Linked DNA regions of Homo sapiens. The protein of the gene in region 1 interacts with the protein of each later gene in a biochemical or structural test. Each region holds a gene or a part of one and is shown on either strand. Other genes may lie near its edges.

Region 1 (6,821 bases):
CTTGTCCATGCTGACCTCAGTGAGTATAACATGCTGTGGCATGCTGGAAAGGTGAGGAGCACATTTTGTTAACATTCAGATTTAATTACTGTAAGTAAAATTTAAAATGTAAATACATCAGTTCATGTTCTGTATTGAAATAGGTCTGGTTGATCGATGTCAGTCAGTCAGTAGAACCTACCCACCCTCACGGCCTGGAGTTCTTGTTCCGGGACTGCAGGAATGTCTCGCAGGTAGACGTGTAAACCAATATGCCTTTTTTTGTTGGATGTAACAGCTGCAGGTATTTTTCTCACTCCTAAGATAAGTAAGAGGACCATATTCTTAGAAATTGAAGGAAGGGATACGGGCTGCTTTCAGGACAAGGATATAAAGATCAATTTGTCATATTTCATTTTGCAAGAATTTGATTCCATGTCTTACAGTTGGGTAAAATGTTCAAGGGGTGCCAGGTATGGTGGCTCACGCCTGTAATCCCAGCACTTTGGGAGGGTGAGGTGGGTGGATCATTTGATGTCAGAGGTTCAAGACCAGCCTGGCCAACATGGTGAAACCCCATCTCTACTAAAAATGCAAAATTAGCCGGGCATGGTGGCAGGCGCCTGTAATCCCAGCTACTTGGGAGGCTGAGGCAGGAGACTCACTTGAACCTGGGAGGCAGAGGCTGCAGTGAGCCAAGAACGTGCTACTGCACTCCACCCAGCCTGGGCAACAGAGTGAGGCTCCGTCTCAAAAAAAAAAAAAAAAAAATATGCCAGGTGCAGTGGTTCATGCCTGTAATCCCAGCACTTTGGGAGGCCAAGGTGGGTGGATCACCTGAGGTCAGGAGTTCAAGACCAGCCCGGCCAACATGGTGAAACGCTGTCTGTACGAAAAATACAAAAAAATTAGTTGGGTGCGGTAGCGTGTGCCTGTAATCCCAGCTAGTTGGGAGGCTGAGGAAGGAGAATCACTTGAGCCTGGGAATCGGAGGTTGCAGTGAGCCAAGGTTGCGCCATTGCACTCCAGCCTGGGTGACAGAGCAAGACTCCTTCTCCAAAAAAAAAAAAAAAAATGTTAAAGGGAATAAGTGAGTGTTTTGGCTCCTTGTATATAAGCAGTCGAGTAGACATTTAATGTGTGCATAGTGCTTAAACAGAAGCTGGTGTGCCTGTATGCTTGCTGCCATTATTACCATTAAAAGAGGGACAGTCTCTATTGTGGGACAGTGTCTGATCACTGTCACTGTGAAGCATGGTAAGAAGATTAGGTGGCTGGGCATGGTGATTCACGCTTACAATCTCACACTTTGGGAAGCCAGGGAGGGAGGATTGCTTGAGCCCAGGAGTTTGAGACCAGCCTGGGCAACATAGTGAGACTCCTATCTCTACAAAAAAATTTAAAAAGTAGCTGGGTGTGGTGGAACATGTCTGTAGTCCTAGCTGCTTTAACTGGGAGGCTGTTTTACTAGGGAGGCTGAGGCAGGAGGATTGTTTGAGTCCAGAAGTTCAAGATTATAGCGAGCTGTGATTGTGCCACTGCACTCCAGCCTGGATGACAGTGCTAGGCCCTGTCTCTTAAAAAAACAAAACATATATATATATATATATATATATATATATATATATATATATATATATATATGGTAAAATTTAGTAAGCACAGGGTTGGGTCACACTTGTTTGGCATTTCTAAGGGAAATGAATTGTTGGCAGTAGATTCAGATAGCAATGATCTTTCTAAAGGATAGAGTAACTTCATATTGGAAATAACCTCTGAGCCTGCTTGAAATTTTTAATTTCTGGGGTTTAGTGAAAGTATTTCCTTTACATATTCAAAGCAATGCCAAGTGGTTTTATTTATAGCACTCATTTTTATAGCTATAGAAGGTGCAGTGGTATGAGCTAAATCCAGAAGGCAGGATGGATGTGTGAGAGGATGAAAAGCAACTAGAACCTGAGTATAGTCCAGCTTGGAAGCAGGAAAATCGATGGTTGAGAAATGAGGCAAGGAATGTAGTGGCTCAAGAGATCCTCCCTCCTTGGCCTCCCAAAGTGTTGGGATAACAAGGATAACAGGAGTGAGCCGCCATGCCTGGCTGAGCCAGTAATTTTTACTCTCTTAAAAACTAGGTTATTCCTAATGATTCTGCCTTTGAGTTGAAATTACTGTGTGTGTGTGTGTGTGCGTGTGCACACGTGCATGCATCCAAGTCTTTTTATAAATGTGCTGCTCCCTGTTTTTAGTTTATAAGAGAACATTGCTAATACTTCTTACTGACTTTCTTGTATTTCCTTACTAGTTTTTCCAGAAAGGAGGAGTCAAGGAAGCCCTTAGTGAACGAGAACTCTTCAATGCTGTTTCAGGCTTAAACATCACAGCAGATAATGAAGCTGATTTTTTAGCTGAGGTATGTGATAAACAGCTGTTTTTCACCTTGCTGGTCATGCAGAACTGCATAGAGGAGATAACTGAAACCCAGAGCTAGTTTTATCCTCCCTTTCCCCCAAAACAAAATTAATTTGAGATTTTTCTTTTCTTAAGATGTTTTTGGTTTTTTCTTTTTTTCTTTTTTTTTTTGAGATGGAGTCTTGGTTTGTCACTCAGGCTGGAATGCAGTGGCGTGATCTTGGCTCACTGCAACCTCTGCCTCTTGGGTTCAAGCGATTCTCCTGCCTCAGCCTCCTGAGTAGCTGGGATTACAGGTGTGTGCCACCATGCTTGGCTAATTTTTGTATTTTTGGTAGAGACAGGGTTTCGCCATGTTGGCCAGGCCGGTCTTGAACTCCTGGCCTCAAGGGATCCACCCACCTTGGCCTCCCAAAGTGCTGAGATTACAGGCATGAGCCACTGTGCCCGGCCTGTTTTTTTCTATACTTAAAATTCAGAATACACACACAGCAAAACATTTCTTCACGGAGGGCACCATTTGGTTAAGATGGGCAAACTGTACATTTCCAGTAGACTCCTATTTCCCCTATTTAATGAATGAGGAAGTTGAACACTCTGAGTGATACAAAAAATAGTAACATGTGGTCCCTGCCCTTTACTAAACATAGAAAGTTAGAAGTGCCTATCTTTGGAAATACCCGGTTATTATAATATCAGATCTAGAGAACCATGAAAAAGCTTCCTCCAGAGAAAGTCTCTTAAAATTGAACAAAATCTAAAAGGTGAAATAGCAGTTAATTATTCCCAACATTATACCAAAGCAGAGAGTGATTACTGAGTCTGTTCCAGAAATCCCCAGGATGACTTGAGTTTGGGTAAGCTGGGCCTAGCCTAAGGCTAGAGAGAAATAACAGAAAGATGGTAAATTCATTCTTCCAGCACAATACAGTTGCTCAGTAAGTAAGTGATACTGTTGTTTGATGAATGGTAGAGTTTTCTTTTTCCTGTTTCTGGAATGTTTTATAGAATACATTTCAAAACATAGATGATTCCAATTGCTAGCTGGATAAAGATAGTAAATATTGACCCTTGCAATCAAGTTAAAAAAAATACATGTATGTATGACTATTTGTGTATACTTGGATGCACGCACACACACACACACACACACACACACACACACACATAGTAATTTCAACTCAAAGGCAGAATCATTAGGAATAACCTAGTTTTTAAGCGAGTAAAAATTACTGGCTCAGCCAGGCATGGCAGCTCACTCCTGTTATATCTGTTATCCCAACACTTTGGGAGGCCAAGGAGGGAGGATCTCTTGAGCCCAGGAGTTTGAGACCAGCCTGAGCAACATAAACTCCATTAAAAAATAAAAAATAAAAAAACTGGCTGGACACGGTGGCTCACGCCTGTAATCCTAGCACTCTGAGAGGCCAAGGCGGGTGGAACACCTGAGGTCAGGAGTTCGAGACCAGCCTGGGCAACATAGTGAAACCCGTCTTTACTAAAAATACAAAAATTAGCTGGCGTGGTGGCACATGTGTCCCAGCTACTAGGGAGGCTGAGGCAGGAGAATTGCTTGAACCCAGGAGGCAGAGGTTGCAGTGAGCCGAGATTGCACCACTGCACTCCAGCCTGGACGACAGAGTGAGACTCCATCTCAAAAAAAGAAAAAAATTACTAGCACAATCTAAAATATGGTTTCTGTGAAAAGTAGGATTTTGACAAATGGATTCAATGTATTATTTTTGTAGATAGAAGCTTTGGAGAAAATGAATGAAGATCACGTTCAGAAGAATGGAAGGAAAGCTGCTTCATTTTTGAAAGATGATGGAGACCCACCACTACTATATGATGAATAGCACTAATACCCACTGCTTCAGTGTTAACACAGCAGTGATTGTCAGCTGCCAATAGCAAATGAAGTTATGGGTGACTTGAAATACCAAAACCTGAGGAGTGGGCAATGGTGCTTCTGTGCTTTTCCCCCTTGTAACCCATGTGCCAGATGTGTGGAATTTTTAGCTCAGCATTGAGAGAATAAAATGTCACTACCTCTCATCTTATGAACAGGATAATATAATTCTTTAACAGCTATAGGTTATCTGGCTGAAGTAGACCTAATTTTATGTGACTTGTGGTGTAAAATGTCTTGATGATAATTTTTAAAACTTGGGTAACACTTCCAAATATGGGAGGAAAGGACAGATGTGTTTACAAGGGAGGATTTTACAACATACTTGCTTTATTCACCTCCCTGTTTTGTGTTGCGTCTTTCCTTGAATATTTTATTGGCCCAGAGTTAGCCTTTCTCAATTATGTTTCCAGACTGTGGCCGTGATTCTAAAGGAAAATGTGTGCTCTTTAGTGGGTAGAACAAATGGAAATTTGGTTTCAGAATGGCTGACAGAAATCGACATAAGTCATGTAATTTTTGTTGATATATCATGAAAATGAACAGAATTCTTTTTCCATACTTATATCTAAGAAAAGGCATCATAGGTTTCTGAAAGAGATAACTATATAACAGCTTTTTAACTATCCAGTCAACTTTCAGCTTTTCTACATTTAGGTAAAATGGTTAGGATATAACTCATGGTGTGGCTAATCTACATTTATCAATAAAATGTAAATTATCTGAAAGGACAGAATATAAGATTTAACCATGTTTGACGTATTTTAATTTAGTTAATGAAGCAAAATTCAGTTTATATTTCACTAGAACTGTGTACTTGATTGATTTTCAGAGAAATATCACAAATTAGAAATATTAAATCTAAGGATGAAAGGTATATATAAAACAATTTGGGGGCCAGGCACGATGGCTCAAACCTGTAATCCCAGCACTTTGGGAGACCAAGGCGGGTGGATCACTTGAGGTCAGGAGTTCAAGACCAGCCTGGGCAACATGGCGAAACCCTGTCTCTACTAAAAATACAAAAATTAGCCGGGTGTGGTGGCACTTCTCTGTAATCTCAGCTTCTCAGGAGGCTGAGACAGGAGAATCGCTTGAACCCGGGAGGCAGAGGTTGCAGTGAGCTGAGATCATGCCACTGCACTCCGGCCTAGGTGACAGAGGGAAACTCCATCTCCAGGAAAAAAAAAAAAAAACCCAATTTGGATACCAAATTAATCAACTAATTTGAGCTATCTGGCCTTACTCTTAGTAGTTTTTAGTACGTGCTGGACACCACTTTTAAAAAGCAATCACTGTGCTAGAAAAGTATATTGGCTTTGTTAGGATTAAAGTTCATTAACTTCAATGTAATCATGCCTCCTATTACTGAAGTCAGATTGGAACCACTAAAGATCCAAACTTTCTGTCTGGTAATAGAAAGTAAAAATCTAGACATCATTTACATTTGAGAAAGCTGTTTTTAACATTATTTTAAAATGCCAAATATGTTCTTTCTAGAAAAATATTTATTTTTGTTTTTGTTGGATAGCTTTTAATTACATTTCAGAGAGGTGTAATTTTGGGTAGATGCTCATTACATTTTTGAAAGGTTTATGATTCCAAAATAAAGATTTATATGACTGGTGATACTGGCTTTACAGAAATTTCAGAGAACTAATTTTTAAAATCTTTAGCATTTAAAACTTTTTTTGTTTTGTTTTCTGACATATTCTGACAAAGAGCAGCAAACCACTGCTGTGTGGCATTCTTGGAGTGTGCTGTGAATGTGCTTTTTAAGAAATTAAAAAGAGATCATTTTAAAATTGGTTCTTTGTGTGGTATCTTCCTGTTCCTTATATTAACTTATGTCCTGGTACCAAGTTGCTGTTTCTGTATAAAGTTAAGCAATGCTATTTTAAGTAGATTATTCCCCCTCAACTTCTCATTGTTAGATTTCAATCGCAAATGGCCTACTTCACATTACAAATAGGTTCCCCCCCTCACACCTTGTAGATTAGAGAGTAGATTTTTTTCCCATAGTAGAAAAAGAAAGTGAAAAATACTGGTTTGCTAAGTAAATAAAAAATCAAATACTGGCTGGGCGTGGTGGCTCACACCTGTAATCCCAATACGTTGGGATGCTGAGGCAGGATGATCACTTGAGCCTAGGAGTTTGAGATCTGCCTGAGCAGCATAGCAGACCTCATCTCTACAAAACATTAGGTGAGTGTGGTGGCATGCATCTCTGGTCCCAGCTACTTGGGAGGCTGAGGCAGGAGGATTCTTAGAGCTCAGGAGATCAAGCCTGCAGTGAGCTATGGTCACACGACTACACTCCAGCCTGGGTGATAGATAAAGACTTGGTCTCAAATAAATTAATAAAATGAAAATATATAAAATACGGAAATAGGGATATTTTGTCTCACATTAAGTTATCAAAATAAGGATGACTAGATAACTTTTATTTCAACAAGATAATTACCAGTTTTCTTTTCATAAAAATTAGTTTTTCTTGCTTACAAAAGTAAGTCATTTATTTGAA
Region 2 (7,948 bases), on another chromosome or scaffold:
ACAGACCCGTCCTCACCTAAACAGAGAAACCCTTTGTCGGGTGGGCAGCAGTCGCTCCACTTCCTCTTTGGTACAGTTGAGGTGCTGCAGCAGCTTCTTCTGCCGTATGATATAGAGGAGTTCTGCCAGGAAGAAAGGGTCTTCCTCACTCAGCAGATCCTCTGCCAAGAGATGTTCAAAAACATCTGAGGCTGAGCTGGACTTCTCCAGCTTCTTGTTGGGGACCAATCCTATGCAGAGAAACTTGAGGTTCTCCACATCTTGGACCCCCAGGTTTGAATCAATAATCAGAAGCTTCTCACGAAAGCTCACTTTACAGTTTTTATCTGAACTGGAATACCAATGTTGACCTTGAGATTTCATGGCCAGCCTGAAAGGGACAGAGAGGTGGGGCAGGGAGTTAGAGAGTGAGGACATATGGCCCCCTGACTTCCCAGGCCCTCCCCTCACCACAACCTTCTCCGTTCTGGGCATTAGACTTTCCTAGAAGTGCTGAAAAATAAAAATTACGGCGAGGCTACTTCAAAAAGCAACAGCCCAGAAAACTTTTCCCCAACACTTGCAAGTTACTTTTTAGGAAACTTGGAGGGTGCTTATATTGGAATTCAATTCACCTTGATTTCTCCCAAATCAAAATGTTCCCAGAGAGAGAAAGTTAAGATGGAGGGACACAGCACAATTTTTCTCAAGCCTGGTAGCCTGATTGGAGCCCTTACATTCATTTCCAGCACGTGGCAGAAATAGCACTTGGCTCTATGCTTTAAGTTTTAGACACAAAGCAATCTGGGGGAGGCAGGGTTATCCTTATGATCTATCAACCCAAAGACAGCAAGGTACCGTGAGGTATGTGTGTTACATCTTAACTTCAGACTGCTACCTGTAAGAGGGCAGGCCTTTATCTTACAGAAAGGGAAGGCATAATCCTAGACCTCAAGCCTGAGCAACATGGCGAGACCTGGTCTCTACTAAAAATACAAAAAATTATCAGGGCATGGTGGCACATGCCTGTGGTCCCAACTACTCAGGAGGCCGAGGATGGAAGGATCATTTGAGCCTGGGGAGCACAGGTTGCAGTGAGCCATGATCATGCCACTGCACTTCACCCTGGGTGACAGAGTGAGACCCTGTTTCAAAAAGAAAAATAAATAAATAAAATATCCTAGACCTCAGGAGGAAAGGGTGGTTTTAGACAAGAGTTGCTCAAATCAGTGTAGGAAGTTAAAAATTACATGAGTCGGCTGCTCTGTCTATGGAGTAGCCATTCTTTTGTTTCTTTACTTCTCTAATAAACTTGTTTTCACTAAAAAAAAACAAATTACATGAGTCAATGTTTCCATCTGATCAGTTTATAAACTATGCTATTCTCTATACTAAATTTCATCATAATCAGAGGAGCAATGCAGTGATAAAATTTTCATTGTAATACTATTTATTCTATAAGCACTTGAGGTATGTAGTCAATATGCAGAACTTGGCTATTTTTAGAAACAAGAAAATACTTTATAAAGGAAGGAACAGGTGGGGTGTCATGGCTTACGCCTATAATCCCAGCACTTTGGGAGGCCAAGGCGGGTGGATCACTTGAGGCCAGGAGTTCAAGACCAGACTGGGCAACGTGGTAAAACCCCATCTCTACAAAAAATACAAAAATTAGCCAGGCATGGTGGTGCACGCCTGTGGTCCCAACTACTCAGAGGGCTGAAGCAGAAGGATCATTTGAGCCCCGGGGATGGAGGTTCCAGTGAGCCATGATTGTGCCACTGCACTCCACCCTGGGTGACAGAGCAAGACCCTGCCTCAAAAACAAAACAAAACAACAACAAAAAAACCTCCTAGACCTCAGAAGGAAAGGGTGATTTTAGACAAGAGTTGCTCAAATCAGCGAAGGAAGATAAAAATTACATGAGTCAATGTTTCCATCTGACTAGTCTATAAACTATGGTATTCTACATACTAAATTTCATTATAATCAGAGAAGCACTTCAGGAGACTGAGGCAGGTGGATCACTGTGAGGCCAGGAATTCGGGACAAGCCTGGGCAACACGGTGAAACCCCGTCTCTACAAAAAATACAAAAATTAGCTGGGCTTGGTGGTGTATGCCTGTGGTCCCAGCTTCATAGGAAGCTGAGATGGGAGGATTGCTTGAACCTGGGAGGCGGAAGTTGCAGTAAGCCAAGATTGTGCCACTGCACTCCAGCTTGAGTGCTGGAGGGTGAAAGAGGGAGACTCCGTCTCAAATAAATAAATAGATAAATAAATAAATAAATAAATAAATAAATAAAGGAAGGAAGACACAGCAAAAATCAAAACCTCCATAACAAACAGTGGTTATATCGAGGTGACATAACTATAGATAATACAAATTTCCTTCTGGGCTTCCAATTGAATTTCTCAAATTTTATGCATATGTGAGCATACACATTACTTTTGGTGTTAAAAGAAACAAAAAAATGTCATTTTTAATGTGATAATCCAGGGGATCTTCCCTGCTACTAGCCCTGAGGTCAAATGAGTGGTTTATTGGAGACACCTTTCTATTCTACCGCATCTAGCATTTGCCTTGTGGTTTCTTGACAATTCTGATCTCTAGTTTTAGTGAGTCTACCAAACTTTGTCTCTGTGAGCTAACATATTTCTGCCCCGGTAAAAGGCTATGTTGGAGGCTTCCGGATTTTTTAACTTTTGTTTTCCCAGGCATGACAAAGAAATCTAAGAAAAAATAGTGCCATTGCTGACAAGTTTTTGCAAGTTTCTACAACACGAAGCCATGAAGCAAAGGAAAAGATTCAAGCATGAGACTCTGGAGTAAGAAGGGTTGTTAATTACATACCTTCAGATCAAGCTCCACCAATCTTCTGGAAGTAAACGGTTCTCAGGGAAATTGCCTGAAAACAAAGTTTTAAAGAAAGTAGAATCCTCTGTGTGCTCCAAGGTCCAAAGAAGCTCCCATTTGCTTGGGAAGAGACTTCAAGACTTGCTGGTTGTTTAAGTGAAAACTGAATCTTCAGGACTGGGTAGCCTGATACTAGTTTCCTGCTGATGTCATCACTGCTTATCTGCCTTTTTCCCTCCCCTTTTCCAGGGTTAAGATAACTTTGACAAACAGCGTCTCCTAAAGGCTAATTTACAACTTTCTCACTGTAGAGCTTGGGGTTTCCCCAGGTAAAGCAAAAGCTTCCTAGAAACGAACCCGTGGAAGCCACAAAGTGCTTCAGGCTTTCCTTTGGATCTCCATTTCCTTGGTAAGTCAAAAAGGGAAGCATCTGTTTTCCTAACCAACTCCTTCCCCAAACACACTTCACTTTTCAAATAAAGCCAAAAAGCTCATGAAATAGTTGTCGGCCATGTTAACCCTTTCTTATGTCCACATGCAAATAAACAATGGAGCGATCTCCACTTACCGCAACCTCTGCCTCCTGTGTTCAAGTGATTCTCCTGCCTCAACCTCCCGAGTAGCTGGGATTACAAGCATGCGCCACCACGCCCGGCTAATTTTTTGTATTTTTAGTAGAGACGAGGTTTCACCATGTTGGCCAGGCTGGTCTCGAACTCCTGAGCTTGTGATCCACCCTCCTTGGCCTCCCAAAGTGCTGGGATTACAGGCATGGAGCCACCGTGCCCGGCCCACAAATAAAATTTTTAAAAGATAAAAGAAAAGTGGGGATTCACTTTCAGTCTTTGTGGGAGAAATTAAGAAATAAAAAGAAAAAGAAAGGAAAAAAAAAAGAAAAGTGGGGATGGTGAATTACAAGCCCATTTGGAGGTACCTGCAAGAGACTCAACAAATTTGTGGTAGGCAAAACTGACAGTATGTGTTCTCACAGCACATTCAAACCAGCAGGAAAGTGAGACTTTGAAGACATTATTTCTAATCATAAAAACAATACTGCACACTAATATTGCAACTACCATGTGCCAGGGCATTTACAAATATTTACTCATTTCACCATCCCAACAACACTGTAAGATAAATACTATTACTATGACTGCTGCTTTAACATGTGAAAACTAAGGCACAGAAAGGTTAATTAATTTGCCCAAGGTCACACAGTGAGCGGCTGGAAGAGCCAAGATTTAAACCAGCAAGTTTGGATCAAAGTCACTACACTATAATTAAGCTAACTCAAATGTGCAGCACTCTGGAAAGAGGTACAGAGTCTTAGAAAGATGTTTTATCTATGGGGAAAAAAAGCAAGATTTATGATGCTTTGATTAGCAAATGTATTAAAATGTCCTTTCCATGTCCTAGGCATCATTCAGAGAACTTCTGTGCTTAAGAAAGACAAGTCCTGGGGCCAGGTGCAGTGGCTCCCGCCTGTAATCCCAGCACTTTGGGAGGCTGAGGCAGGCGGATCACGAGACCAGCTTGGCCAAGATGGTGAAACGCTGTCTCTACTACAAATACAAAAAATTAGCTGGGCGTGGTGGCACACACCTGTAATCCTAGCTGCTCGGGAGGTTGAGGCAGGATAATCGCTTGAAGGCAGGAGGTGGAGGTTGCGGTGAGCGGATATCACGCCATCACACTCCAGCCTGGGCTACAGAGCAAGACTCCTTCTCAAAAAAAAAAAGAAAAGAAAAAGACAAGTCCTGGCCAGGCACAGTGGCTCACACCTGTAATCCCAGCACTTTGGGAGGCTGAGGTGGGCAGATTGCTTGAGGTCAGGAGTTCAAGACCAGCCTGGCCATCATGGTGAAACCACATCTCAACTAAAAACATAAAATTCGCCAGGCTTGGTGGCACATGCCTGTAATCCCAGCTACTAGGAGGCTGAGGCTGGAGAATCGCTTGAACCCGGGAGGCAGAGGTTGCAGTGAGCCAAAATCGTGCCATTGCACTCCAGCCTGGGCGACAGAGAAAGACTCTCTCAAAAAAAAAAAAAAAAAAAACCTTCTTGGGAAAGGGGGGCCGGAGCACAGCAGGCTGGGTTACTCACTACCCCAGTTCCAGGGAAGGTGGGGCCCTGACCCTAGAATGCTGCAGCAGAGTGAGGAGGGGGCCCCAACTGACCATAAAGAGTGTAGGGACCACCTTCTTTGCCTGTTCTGTTGGGACCAGGCTAGTCATTATTTGTCCCAGCCTGGGGCTCCCCCTGTGGTTTCCAATTTGCAGTTACTTTAACTTAAAATATAAATATTATTTTCTGGAAAATAACTTAAAAAGGAAGAAAGACAAGCCGTAAGTCTTGGTCTTCTATTTAGTTGTTTTATTATAAATATTAAATTTATTGGGCCATTTAGGGAGGCAACTTATTGAAACTATCACTTTCTCTCACTCTGTTCATAAAGTATATTAACTCTTTCAACTTTGATTCAATAATATTAAATATTTAGCAGGCAATTCAAAGCCCTGAATTGGGCACAATTGGAAAGCAAAGTGACCTGCTTTCCATAGTAACTATGGCGACCGGTACTACCATTTCTAAACTTCTCTGATGAACTCATAACAACTCCCAGCCTTAGCTGGCATTATTATCCACATTCAATAGATGAGGAAACCCAGATTCAGAGAGGCAAGGAATCTTGCCACCATCCCAAAGCTATGAGCAAGAATTCAGGGCTCAAACGTGGGTCTCTCTGACTCCGAACCCCTTGCTCTTGATCCCCGGGCTACCATTGCCCGAATCTCAGTATGACATCGTGTAGCATCTGTAACTGCGGGCAGGGGGTGGTGATGCCACAGTGAGGCTTCACTTTGGTGCCACAGGGGCTTTAAGAAGGGACAATCAGTCAGACATTCCTTGGAGGAGGAAGTATTTGATCTAGGTCTGGAAGGTAAAGGTAGAATAAAGACCCAGGAAGTAAAACTGTAACTTTTATCCTACTGCTCCAGGGAAACATTTGAATCAGGTTACAGAGGGGAGATGGCGTGCAGTGCAGATATTTGTACTCAGCATTTTCTACTTCCTCCTACACACAGTTACTGAGGGCATGTTGATGGTGGTAGAATAAACACGTCTTACAATCTCTTTCCTGATTGGTTGCAGTCTACTGAGTGCACGTGAAGGGCCAATCAAAACCTTCATGGCCTTTTGTAGAGGTGGATGTCAACTACTGCTTTAGTTCCACATTAGTAGGGGGTAGTGGTAGCAGTGGTTGGCTTTCCTTGACATACAATCTGTGGTCCAAGTTCCCCACCCTCTGTCTGGGTAGACTAAAGGGTAATGACTCCTGGCTGGGCACGGTGGCTCACACCTGTCATCTCAGCACTTTGTGAGGCCGAGGTGGGTGAATCACCTGAGGTCGGGAGTTTGAGACCAGCCTGACCAACATGGAGAAACCCCATCTCTACTAAAAATACAAAATTAGCCGGGCATGGTGGCACATGCCTGTAATCCCAGATACTCAGGAGGCTGAGGCAGGAGAATCACTTGAACCCGAGAGGCAGAGGTTGCAGTGAGCCGAGATCATGCCATTGCACTGCAGCCTGCATAACAAGAGCGAAACTCCATCCAAAAAAAAAGAGTAATGACTCCTAAAGGATTGGCATAAGCCATGGGGGAGGAGGAAGGGATATACTGGCTAGAGAAGAGCTCAGAGCACTGAAACCTCCACCCCAACCTATGAGGGTCCTCAGAAGGTCTTGAAGTAGCAAGTCTTCTAGATTTGACACCCCCAACCTCCAAGACCTCCTTACCCCCACTTTGCTCCATACCTTTGTTACGGGATCTTTGGGGTATCAATTTTCTGGCTGGAAACCTCTCTGACTGCAGCACCTTTGCCCGAGTTCTGGCCTGCGTCCAGGAAGAATGAGGTACACAGACAAGTGAAGGGTGAACAAGATGAAGAAGAGCTTTATTTAGTGCTAGAACAGCTCAGAGGAGGCCCACAGTGGGTAGCTCCTCTCTGTAGGCAGGTCATCTGTCCAGTGCTCAGTTCTCAGTGGAGAGGAGGCCCTGGAAAGGGTGGCTTCTCTCTGCTGGCAGGTTGTCTCTGCAGCTCTCAGTGGAGAAGGTAGCTCTTCTCTGCAGCCAGCCATCCCATTGTCTCCAGCTATCAGCAGAGAGTACTCCTCTCTGCAGCTGGTCATCCCACCACCTCTCTGCCCTCTTTGTCCTCTGGCCATCCTCTGCCCTGCTCTGGCTGAGCCCAGGGCTTTTATGGACCTCAGAGAGGAGGAAGTGGCTGCCAATTTGTCCACGGGCACCCAGAAGAGGCACCATGAGTCCCTACTACAATCCACAGGACTGGCAGCCCCACCCCCAGCCTTCAGCCCTCCCTGGCCTGAAGGAGGACCTTACTGGGGACCTGCCCCCTTCTGCCTCCCATTGCCATTCAAGGCCCCAGGACTTGGCCCCAACCCCACTTCAAGATTGGAGAAGGTGCCAGGAGTGAAGAGAGGCCAGGCAGCGGGAGCAGACACCCCCAAGCCTGCGGGATGGGGTGGGAGGGGGTCCTTCCTGGGGCCCCCAGGGTGCAGGCTGCAGAGATGCCCAGGTCCTGCACCTAGGAGGGTGGCTGCAGCCACACCCTGGTGTTGGGAACAGTCCCCCAAATCTGGCCATAAACTGACCCGAAAACTGGCCATAAACAAAATCTCTGCAGCACTGTGACATGTTCTTGATGGCCATGATGGCCACGCTGAAGGCTGTTGTTTTACCGGAATGAGGGCAAGGAACACCTGGCCCACCCAGGGCGGAAAACTGCAAAAAGGCATTCCTAAACCACAAACAATAGCATGAGTGATATGTGCCTTAAGGATATGTTCCTGCTGCAGATAACTAGCCAGAACCCATCCCTTTGTTTCGGCCCATCCCTTTGTTTCCCATAAGGGATACTTTTAATTAATCTATAATCTATAGAAACAATGCTTATCACTGGCTTGATGTCAATAAATATGTGGGTAACTCTCTGTTCGGAGCTGTCAGCTCTAAAGGCTGTCAGCCCCCTGATTTCCCACTCCACACTCTATATTTCTGTATGTGTGTCTAATTCCTCTAGCACCA

What was found.
Region 2: the proteins of RIOK3 (region 1) and CASP10 form a complex in vitro, tested with the Homo sapiens proteins (one study listed by IntAct).

The regions. Positions count from the first base shown.
Region 1 is NC_000018.10:23,477,036-23,483,856, forward strand, and holds the end of RIOK3 (serine/threonine-protein kinase RIO3), read left to right. Parts: coding exon 1-51; intron 52-121; exon of another isoform or gene 122-143; coding exon 144-233; intron 234-2,281; coding exon 2,282-2,389; intron 2,390-4,136; coding exon 4,137-4,244; 3' UTR 4,245-6,105; downstream 6,106-6,821.
Region 2 is NC_000002.12:201,178,193-201,186,140, reverse strand, and holds the start of CASP10 (caspase-10 isoform 1 preproprotein), read right to left. Parts: upstream 3,001-7,948; 5' UTR 2,833-3,000; intron 371-2,832; 5' UTR 364-370; coding exon 17-363; intron 1-16. UniProt on the Homo sapiens protein: Involved in the activation cascade of caspases responsible for apoptosis execution. Recruited to both Fas- and TNFR-1 receptors in a FADD dependent manner. May participate in the granzyme B apoptotic pathways.